Linked DNA regions of Homo sapiens. The protein of the gene in region 3 purifies or fractionates together with the protein of the main gene of each other region. This does not show direct contact. Each region holds a gene or a part of one and is shown on either strand. Other genes may lie near its edges. The genes, in order: EXOC3, EXOC2 and EXOC6B.

What was found.
Region 1: the proteins of EXOC6B (region 3) and EXOC3 purify together in Homo sapiens (affinity purification with mass spectrometry; 4 studies listed by BioGRID and IntAct, with this or other methods). This does not show direct contact.
Region 2: the proteins of EXOC6B (region 3) and EXOC2 purify together in Homo sapiens (affinity purification with mass spectrometry; 2 studies listed by BioGRID and IntAct, with this or other methods). This does not show direct contact.

What each region holds. Positions count from the first base shown.
Region 1 is NC_000005.10:460,176-463,927, reverse strand, and holds part of EXOC3 (exocyst complex component 3), read right to left. Parts: intron 1,969-3,752; coding exon 1,858-1,968; intron 1,772-1,857; coding exon 1,621-1,771; intron 1-1,620. UniProt on the Homo sapiens protein: Component of the exocyst complex involved in the docking of exocytic vesicles with fusion sites on the plasma membrane.
Region 2 is NC_000006.12:490,428-494,179, reverse strand, and holds part of EXOC2 (exocyst complex component 2), read left to right. Parts: intron 1-2,993; coding exon 2,994-3,055; intron 3,056-3,752. UniProt on the Homo sapiens protein: Component of the exocyst complex involved in the docking of exocytic vesicles with fusion sites on the plasma membrane.
Region 3 is NC_000002.12:72,175,449-72,179,150, forward strand, and holds the end of EXOC6B (exocyst complex component 6B), read right to left. Parts: 3' UTR 536-3,702; downstream 1-535. UniProt on the Homo sapiens protein: Component of the exocyst complex involved in the docking of exocytic vesicles with fusion sites on the plasma membrane.

The DNA.
Region 1 (3,752 bases), on a different chromosome or scaffold from region 3:
ATGAGCTTCCCAAAATGACATGTTAAAGATGGAAATATCTGTGCATGTATACATTTTACCTTTAGTGGCTACATATATTTATCGTATTTATTTGCCCAATTCTCTATTGATGGACATTTAAATTTTTTTCACATTTTGCAATAATGCAACAGTGAATCTGTATAATTCTGATGAAATTCCTTAAAGTTGAATTTTTCAGTCAAAAAGTATACACATTAAAACCAATAAAAGTATACAAATTAAAACTCCAATAAAAGTATACAAATTAAAACTCCAATAGAAGTGTACAAATTAAAACTCCAGTAAAAGTTACAGATTAAAACTACAATGGCTGTATTTCCAAGCTGCCCTCAAAAACCCAACCCAGTTCAGGCCCACACAGAATACAAACAGCCCCTTTTTCCCACACCCTCAACAAGCCTGAACAGCATCCACGTCTCCGGCTCCTGCCATCCTGCTGAGCAGCAGGTCCTGTTGAGCATTCATTGCTTCGAGGATAAGATCGGGCGTCTAGTTTCACGATGAGGACACTGGTGTTGCTTTTAATGTGAGGTGGCCGTTCATGTCTTTTGCCCATTTTTCTATATATTCTTTTTAAATTTTGAAATAATTTCAAATGTAAATATTTTCTTCTTGCTAAGTCATATTTGCGAAAGTTACAAGTGTCTGCCTCTTTGGGGACACTTCCACACACATTTCTGTTCTCTTGCACAACCAGACACTGATGAATCAGCAACCAATCCCACCCCTCATCCCAGGAACCCCTTTCCAGCAGGACCACCAGATGGCCATGGTCTTATTATTTTGTTGTTGTTGTTGTTTTGAAATGGAGTTTGCTCTTGTTGCCCAGGCTGGAGTGCAATGGCGCGATCTCTGCTCACTGCAACCTCCACCTCCCGGGTTCAAGCAATTCTCCTGCCTCAGCCTCCCAAGCAGCTGGGATTACAGGTATGCGCCACCACACCCAGGTAATTTTGTATTTTGAGTAGAGATGGGGTTTCTCCATGTTGGTCAGGCTGGTCTCGAACTCCCAACCTCAGGTGATCCGCCTACCTTGGCCTCCCAAAGTGCTGGGATTAAAGGCGTAAGCCACCACACCCGGCCTACAAGGTCTTATTTTTTAAATATATCCTGATTTCTGCCAATACCTCTAAATAATGTTAAGCCATCTTTATGTTTCTGAAATAACCCCTACATTTCATGGTAGGTTATGCCTTTGATACAATATTAAATTCATTTTATTAATGATTTTTGCGTGTGTACCTATATTCAAAAGCGAAACTGATCTATGTGAGGATGTGTGTGTGTGTGCACTCTCAATTTGACTTTTTGACAGGTCCCTACATATCGGTTTCTATTTTGTAATCCACTAAATTGTCTGATGTCTTTAATACTTACAGGGTGAATCTACTGAATTGTGCGTAAGAAGGACCCTGCATCATACGAAGCAGCGTCACCGAAAACGGAGGCGCTTTAAGCGATCTGACCGGAATGCAAGTGCACAGCCCGGCTCCCCAGACGGCATCCGCACGGTACAGTTCACAGCCTGTGTCCCAGAGGGCAGTGAGGAAGCACTGGGCTTCGGCCCAGAAAACGGCAGGAGGAAAGAGCCAGGCCCACCTCCAGGTCCAGGAAGACCTCCTCCAGCAAACCGCTGCAGCCCTCCTTCGCGATGGCGTCTAAAATCCCGTCCATGCTGGGCTGGCTCGGAGACACACCCTCTTCCACTTCATTCTTTAAATACTTTCTTTTTAAACTGACTATGGATTCCCTGCAAGGAAAGGGTTCAGGTTCAACACAGCGGCTGGGCAGGCCGGCCTCCACCGCTCCCCCGCCACAGCGCCCGGCCACACTCACTTGAAGGTCTGGCAGTTGTTGATGATGGCGATCATGTACTGAACGTAGCAGTGAGGGTGCTGCCGATTCCTCAGGTGCTCTTCTTTATACAGCTGCGCTTCATCTTTATATCTGAGGACAGACAGGCTTCGGTCAGACAGCACTAAGGGCAACATGGAGCTGTTTCAAATGCCACGCTGACGTCACGCCTGGCCTGAAATTTCACATCACTAACATCTGACCGGATGAGCCTCTAAAAATAAAACAATCTTTAGACGATCCAGACTAATGGAAGGACAGAGAGGTTGATTACTTTAAATGGATCAAAAAATAACTTCACCTCAGGCTTTAAAATATGGCTCATTAGGAGGCTGAGGCAGGGAGACCACCTGAGCCCAGGAGTTAAAGGCTGCTGGCTGCGCTGCAGTGAGCTACCCGTCGGGGTAACCTAATCAGACCTTGTCTCTTTTTTTTTTTTTGAGATAGAGTCTTGCTCTGTCACCCAGGCTGGAGTGCAGTGGTGAGACCTTGGCTCACTGCAACCTCCACCTCCTGGGTTCAAGTGATTCTCCTGCCTCAGCCTCCTGAGCAGGTGGGACTACAGGTGTGCCCCACCATGCCCAGCTAATTTTTGTATTTTTAGTAGAGACAGGGTTTCACCACATTGGCCAGGCTGGTCTCGAACTCCTGACCTCATGATCCACCCGCCTCAGCCTCCCAAAGTGCTGGGATTACAGGCGTAAGCCACCGTGCCTGACCGACCTTGTTTCTTAAAAACAATTAAAAAATATAAAAATTTTGAGGAGTTGGTAAAAAATAATAACTGAAAAAAGGAAAAAAAATATGGTTCAGCATTCTGATTGTAAAAATATACTACATAGTTGATTGTGAGGAATTGGGAAAGCATTATCTTATTTTATTTATTTTATTTACTATACACTTCACCTAGAAACTCATAGTGTTAGGAACCTCATCAAATGTCAGGTAAAATGTCCCTTTCAGAAACTGTCCCTGAAATCATCCAATTAAAAACAGACACTTGAAATGTCAAGAAAACAAACAGAGGTAGTGACACGCTCTATTTTTAAACTTACTGTGGGGATGCTCAAGCACCTATGGGAGTGGAAGAATCATACAACAAATACCGTTTCTATTTTTAAGAGATGTTAAGAAAGGAGCACACTGAAAGCTGGCAATTAAAGGGAAAGAAGTTAGCATTTCTGTCCAAAGTGTGGTTCAGGTCATCAAAAAGCTGAGGGTGATCAAGGAACGGTCTCTTTATAGAAGAATCTAACCTCATAAATGACAATGACCTCCAAAGAAACAAACTCAGGCCAAGATCCCCATGGACAGATGGCCAATAGGGATTTGGCCATGCCTCTGTGGATAGAAGGCCAATGGGGACTTGGCTAAGACTTGGCCAGTGGGGACTTGGCTAAGACCTCTATGGATAGAGGGCCAATGGGAACTTGGCTAAGACTTGGCCAGTGGGGACTCGGCTAAGACCTCTATGGAAGAGGGCCAGTGGGGACTCAGCTGTGACCCCTGTGGATGGGCGGCCAGTGGGGACTTGGGCATTACCCCTATCGATGGATGGCAAATGGGAACTCTGAGTGGGCGGCGTGGCTGTAGTACCTAAGCCACCAGGACAGGACCTATGGACGCCATGTCTCCTGATGTGCCACATCGTGGAAGGCACACTCACCAATAAGTGGGATCCAAGCCTGCAGAGCCAGCATCTGGCTCGGGAGCTGACAGTAGACTGAGGAGGAGGCTGAGGGACATCTCTCTACAGAGATCTACAAGCCAGCAGCTGAAGGAGGGAAGGGGCTATTCGGCTTACCAGAGGCCTAGGAACCCTAAGCCCTCATGCGATGCAGTCCAATCTGATTCACAACTATCAAAAGACACACTTG
Region 2 (3,752 bases), on a different chromosome or scaffold from region 3:
GTGTTTCCATTTGCCACCAGTTTTCTCTGAAAATTGATGTATCAGATCTTTGATATTATCGTTTAAGTTGAAAGGTCATGGTTATTATAATAGTTCCATCACAGGAGATGAGTAGTATAAACTGTGTAATACTACAGATGAATTAACAGGCAGTCGCAGTCGCTACTGTGGGCCTTAGCAGTCTTAGAATTTTAACAGGCATCCGCCCTCTCTACACATTACCTCCGTAATCCATTTATCTGATGGCTAAACCACTCTCAAAACCAGCAGGGAGAGGTTGGAAAGTGATCTCAGAATTAGCTGGAAAATTTTTTCACGTACACATGTCCAGAAACTACTGGCCATCAAACTGTTCCAGCCTCCAGTTTTTGAGACCTCCTCGGGCCTGGACAGACATGTGTATTTTGAAAAAGGTCGTGAGTCTAAACTCCCGCTTCACTCTCCCACTGAGAATGACTTTGAGAGCTTCCTTCCTTGAGGCCATAGCTCTAAGAGGGATAGCAGGTTAACCTTTGATAGGCAATTAGGTGCCAAACTCCAGAACTGTCCTGAGAGCTTGGTGAAAAGGGGAGTGACAGTTTGGTGATTTTGGCAGATCTTTTAGCATGATGTTTTCTGGATTACAGTTTTGTAGGTATTATATAGCTAACCACAGTTTTTATAATTGGCATAACTTACAGGTTAATTAAAACACTCTATCACCTTGATTGAATAAAATTTCTACCAGAAGATTGGTTTTGTAGTAATTTAATCTTTCTCCTAAAATGGTCAGCTGAAAGTTCTACCTTTTTTCCTGGTAGGTCTGTTTTTACCTATACTAGAATATAAACAAAATAGAGACAGAAATTGTCATACTTTCTAGCATTTGTAACTTTCTAGTTATATACTGTTTTTCAGGCTTCTAAGGGACTGAAAAAATGAAACCAAACAATTGCCTTCCAAACAGAAAAAGGTCACTGAATATCCTGTGTCATATATATCTGCTTTGATCTAGATGGCTTACAGAATTTCTAATAAACTGTGAAGAGCTGGCTGTGTCTTTTGTCATTGTTTTATGTTTTGTCCACTCCTTGAGAATAAGGGATATTTCTTTTAAATGTTCTCCTGTGTGTCCCACTCACTGTGGGCACCTACTTCAGAACATCAAGTTATCATTGTCAGTGGGTCTGCTGGAGCTCCCAGGAAACTGACTTGTATGTCAGATCACACTTATTCATGCTTGCGTAGAAGTGAAAGCTTAACTTTTTTCTTAAAACTTTTATGAAATATTTCACATAGCATACGATCTGTCTACAATAGAAAAAGAATATGCAATTCAATGATTTTTGGTATATTCAAAGAGCTGTCCAGTCATCACCATCATCAATTTTAGAACATTTCATCCCAAAAGAAACCCCTGACCCATTAAGTCTAATCATTTGCCTCCCAAACCACCCTTTCCCCCTACAGACAACTACCAATTGGCTTTCTATCTCTATGATTTGTCTACTCTGAAAATTTCGTATAAATGGAAACATGAAAATATGACCCTTTGTGACTGGCTTCTTTCATGTAGCGTAATGTTTCAGGGTTCATCCATGTTGTGACATATGCCAGTGCCTCGCTTCTTTTTACATATAATATTCCACTTTAAATATGCCACATTTTATTTATCCATTCATCAGCTGATGGGCATTTGTGGTTTTCCCACCTTTGATTAATATGCAGAATGCTTCTGTGAACACTCCTATACAAGTTCTTGTGTGGACATGTGTTTTCATGTCTCGTGCGTGCATACCAAGGAGCGGAATTGCTAGGTCATGTGGTTACTCTATACTTAATCTTCTGAGGAACTGCCAGACGGTTCTCCAAAGTGGCAGACATTCCTACCAGCAATTTTTGAGGGTTCCAATGTCTCTACATCCTCACCATTATTTGTTATTGTCTCTTATTGATTATAGCCATCCTAGTGGGTGTGAAGTGATACCTCATTCTGTGGGTCGTCCTTTCACATTCTGGATGGTGTCTTTGTAGCACTGGATTTTTAATTTTGGTGAAGTCCACTTTATCTGTTTTGTTGTTTATACTTTCGGCATGATTTCTAAGAAGGGTTTCCTAGCCTAAGGTCACAAAGATTTACACTGGGTTTCTTCTGATAGTTTCATAAGTTTCTTACATTTAGATCTGTGATCCGTGTTAATTTTTGTGTTAAGGAAAGGATTCAACTTCATTCTTCTGCATGTGGATATCCAGTTGCCCTAGCACCATTTGTTGAACAGACTGTTCTTCCCCCACTGAGTGGTCTTGGCACCCTTGTTGAATAGCAGTTGATCATAAATATGAGGGTATACAATATTTAAATATATTTTAGCTTTGGAGTATGGCTGAAGTCAGAAAGTCTGAGGCCTCTAAATGTGTTACTCTAAGATTGTTTTGGCTGTTCTGAGTGCCTTGCATTTCCTTATGAATTTTACAATCAGCTTGCCAGTTTCCATTAAGGAAAAAAAAAGCAGCTGTGATTTTAATAGAGATTGCATTGAATCCATAGAGCAGAGTTTAGGTTTTGAGATTAAGGCAGTGTGCCTGCAAGGGCATAGGTGTCAGGAAGCATGCCAAGCCACATCCTTACCTCTGTGGGACACGGGCCCTTTCAGGGCAGTGTTTCAAAGTGTCTTTCCTCTTGCAAGACTAAAAGAAAAATTAGTGGTTAGAGAGTAAATACAGATGGCTGGAAAATCATGACACAGTTTGTACTTTTCATAGTGAGATATCTAGTTCCCTGCCCTCACACAGTCATCCTTGACTACAAGTTAATTTTCAGTCAACGAACATTTTGTGGTAGCAAATTTCTTCGGACTGTTTTAGAAACTCTACTCATGACTGGCGGTCACCATGGTGGTATTACGCCAACCCCATCCTACGATGAGCAGGCTGGAGACCCTTAACCTTAGTACTTGTTTATATTTGATAATATAAATTTTCCTGTTGTCACTTTGTCTTTTTCTCATTTTCAGGCGAGACTTGAAATCTGTGCTTTGAGGGACACTGTGGCTGTTTACCTGACACCCGAAAGCAAGTAAGTGGCAGTGTTCTTTAGTTGAGTGCTCTATTAAAAATAAAGGTTGTCTTACTAGTCAATTCTGTCCTCTGTAAAGATGACTGATCAGAGCACATGCTCATGAATTTGTGATGTGATAAAGTTTATGTCAAGGCCACTTTGTAACACAATGTAAATGAAAGGGGTTTAATATAATTTTTTCATTTACTACTGACAAATCTTAGTCTTATAATACAGCAGAGTATGACATACTTCTTAAAGCAAAAGAGGATAAGAACTGAGTCTTAGTCTGTTCATAGCAGACTCTGAAGGACAGCTCAAGTGCTGTAAATATCAGTATAAGAGGAAGCCTTGTGGTTTCTCTGCAAAATTTTGTAGTGGAAATTTGATAATTTTTAGCTGTTTTGAATGAAAGTCAGGATTTCCTACCATTGAAATATCAGTAGGTGAAGTGAAGCAGAACTACTGTTTGTCTGTGCAAAATTGTTTACTACGTGGGCAACATTACCTAGGAAATACTGGGTTATAGTGTTGATGTGCCTGAGAAGCCAAGTCGTATGCAAATGAAATGTTTGAGGACACTGTAATATGCTTACTCACTCATTTCCAGCATCTGATAACATGGCTTGCTGTCATTCTGTCAGCTTTGCAACTGAAAATACGTTTTCCATTTTTTCCTAACCAATGAAGTTAGCCTTTCATTCCCGTCGGTCAC
Region 3 (3,702 bases):
ACTTGCATTCCTTCAAGGCCCAGCTAATTAACATTCTGCTTCTTCTGAGCTGTCTTTCCTAACCAGACCCTTTCCTTCACTAGGCCAGGATGACTGTACCCCTCCTGCACTGAGTCTAAAATAGGCTCATCTCTCCCTTTTCTCCAGCCTGGCTTTGTTCTGGATAATCCTACAACACTCCATCTTGACTGGGAGCCTTTCCTTGGCAGGGCTAGTGTTCAACATTGCGTTCTAAGTTGCCTAGCCCAGTGTTCCACATAACTCAAGCATTTCAAAAAGTTCTTCTTGATGATGATGCCAGTGTTAGCTGCATAAGCAGGAAAAAACGTAACCCAGGGGTTAGGGATGTTTCCAAGGCCACAGTACGGCTCCTTGCCTTGTGTGGAAGGTAGGCTTTCTCTTCCCCACTAGGCTCTTGCCTGCTCTAGTCCTCAGTCCAGCTGAGTGGGGATGCAATGTCAGCCATCCAGTTCACCAACCACAGCTGCACTGTGCAAAAAGGATGGAAGAACAAAATACCCATGAGACAACACCGTGGCTTTTGAAACAGGTATGTAGGCTTTCTTGTTTAATAGCAGTTAAAAGAGGAAAATGTACAAGAGGAATAAACATGCTCTTTTCACAGAGGAGCTTTCCCCTAACCATGCGGCCCATCTGTATCAGTAGCTTTACAAGTAAGTTTTAGAGAAAAAAGTTCCCTTTAGAGTTAAAAATGGACTTTCCTAATTTTCTCTATATATGTGCAACTATCTGTGTAAAATAAAAATGCCATTTCCAACACCTTTGTGAAAAGTAATTGTGAATGCAGGCAAAAAAAAAAAAAACAAAAAGGAAGAAGAAGAAGAAGAAGAAGAGGCAATTGCAGTCAAGAGAGGAGTCCTGGGAGAAGGGAGGCTAAGGTAGGGGAATTTCTGCAGCAGTTCCTAGAGAGTGTGCTCAGAGGCCTGATGAGGAAGGTCATGGCCAAAGCCAGTCTTGGGAGATAAAAGGCCGTGGGTCTGGGACTTGCTGAGTAAGCACTTGTCAAGTGTACAGTAAGGCTAGACTGACTTGGAGGACTGGTATGCAATGAGAACAGTGGGCAATGCACCCTGGAAGCTCTACATTCCCTTTGCCAACAGGATCTCACTTCCTGGTTCCCATTTTCAGGTCCTGTTCTTCCCTACCTGCAACAGCTTCATTTATAGCCTGCTCAAAGAGATTTTCCCTATGAATGTTAAAATGATGCAAGCAGCCTATATTACTACTGAAACCTAATAGAGTCCCAAACTGAACTGTCCCTTCAGGAATATAGACCTGGTTTCCTCAAGAACTTGGCCAAGGGTTCATCCTGACCAGAAGCCATACAGGCTTCTAGCCATCTGTGTGCTTGCCCTCTTATTGAGGCCCTCCACGGTACTTCTACATCTCTAGGTATTTGAGGCCATATCTGAGGAGTCTGATGGGTCTGGGCACACATGCTTTGCACAAGTCCTCTCAAGGGTTGGCCCAGCTACAGGTTATAGACAAAACTAAAAACATCCCACTTTTCTAGTTCAAAAACTTGACATTGCTGGTCCCTGTTTTTACCTTCCCTGGCCCACCAAGAGTATGTCTCTACATACAACTCAGTAGCTGCATGTTGTTTTTTGTTAGATAAGGTGAAGGCAGACTAAGAATGGAGAGAAGATATATCAAAGGGTCCATCTTTATGTCTTGAGCTTGAATAAGCTTTTCCTTTCATGGGACTTCTGTGCAGAATAACCCCTATTCCTCCACCTTGTTCACTTTTTCCTGTATAGCACAGTTCTTCCAAGGCAGAGGTTTGAGACCAGACCAGCAATGATGATCCTCTAAAAAGACAAACACTGTGCCATGCTTACACATCTCTCCATTTCCACTTCAAAGTCTCTCAGCACTTAAAGCTGAAGAGATCTTGCTGCAAACTGGGTACTAGCAAAGAGAAGTGTTTTGAACTCTTCTCAAGCAATAGAACTTCAGATTAATATAATCGTTTCTCACTTGTTTCAACAAAGATGAGAGCTTGGCGATGCCATTTTGGCTCCTGCCTTCTCTTGGCTTATCAAGTTCTGGGTGGCAGTGCTCATCCCTTACCCTCATTCTGAAACCCTGGCCAACCATCCAGCCCTCAGGATGAGCCTCAGCAGCATCTATGAGCTCACATGTAGCCTGGTCTCTCCAGCTTTGAGGAAATTTGTATGTCTGTGTGCACATCCTCTTCCCCATGACTATCAAGATATGATAGGATATGGTGAGGTAGGGGGGTTGGGGAGGGGCAAGGAAGTACTTCCCTCCCCAGAAGCAACTCAGTAGCTGACAAAGGTAGTGAAGAATTCTGTTTGATGAGTCTCTCCTCCCATCAATCCAAGCTGGAAATGCCTGTGTGGCTTATTTGTCATTGTTTGGTGATGCACAATTATACTCTTGCCACTAGCCATCTTTCTGCTACTAGCCAGTAGCATCTTTCTGAAGTGTCTTAAAGTACAGTTTCCCCCGACTGACCTCATAGCAAAGCCCTTGCGTTAAGTCTCAGGAGTCCATCTGGGTCAATGAGTGCAGCCTCCACGCTAAGCTGCTCCAGGCTTTAGAGTTTGGAGGACAGGATTATAGGCAATCTTTCTTAGACAAGGCCAAAGATGGCTTTGGGGATCTCAAAAGAGGGTGGGAACCTTGGGCTTGAGCAACAAAATAATATCTAGGATATTATTTAGTGAAGGACAGTTGGGCCAGAGGCAACAAGCCACAAGCCATGGTTGGCTCTGTCGACTTTATGGTAACAATGTCTCCATCCCTAGAGGCATCCAGTCCAGGCATGGCTGCCCCCACAGTGCAGAGCTGGTGACATTTCCTTAAAGATGATAACCAAAAAGCTGGTTTTAAAACATAAAGGAACAATCCCAACTAATCCTCAGGTTACACCTAAGGGTAAGGTAAAGGCCATTTTTAGGCTTCCGAAATCTGAACTATTTCAATGGCATTACTGGAGGAGGCTAAGTCTGAAACGCCCTGTGAAGGCCTATGGAAGTAACTGTTGATTTATGTCCTGAACCAAGTGCTCTGACTGTAAGTGAAGGAAATGAGATGAACAGGGAAGGGATTGGGTCTCTGATTCCATGAAAACTGGCTTTCAAGATCCAGAAAAACTCTTCGAGTTGAGACTCAACACTCCTAGAGCTGGGGCAATATGCAGTTAAACATGGGATCCAATTATTACTGCTGTCTACTTAGCTGTATCCTGCCCTAGAAAAAATTGCAATAAAAGCCTGGGGTTAGATCAGGCTAAAGAAACCGCCATTCTTGGGGGATTGGAATGAAGCTGTCATCTTGCCATATGCCATGCTTGTTCACAAGCCAGTGAAAGTCAGCAGACTGAGGAGATGACCCTCCAGAGCTGCCCTTAGTGTACTAAATAGTAATGTTTGCCATGCCCTTTCCTTGTATTGAGAAGAATCAGCCTCATCTATGTGGTGAATGGGCATCCAAGAGTGAACAGGACATATTTTAGTATCCTTTTGCTTACTCACTCTACCTCCCAGCGCCAGATACCCACTTTTTATGGTTCCTAAGCCCCAGACCTAAGCTTTAGAGCCATGGATGAAAGGTGGTTCATCACTGTGGAATTGATGATACCACCATCTCTAAGATAACACAGATAGTGTAGTAATAACTTCCCCTGAGTCCCAGCCTAGCAACATCTCATGT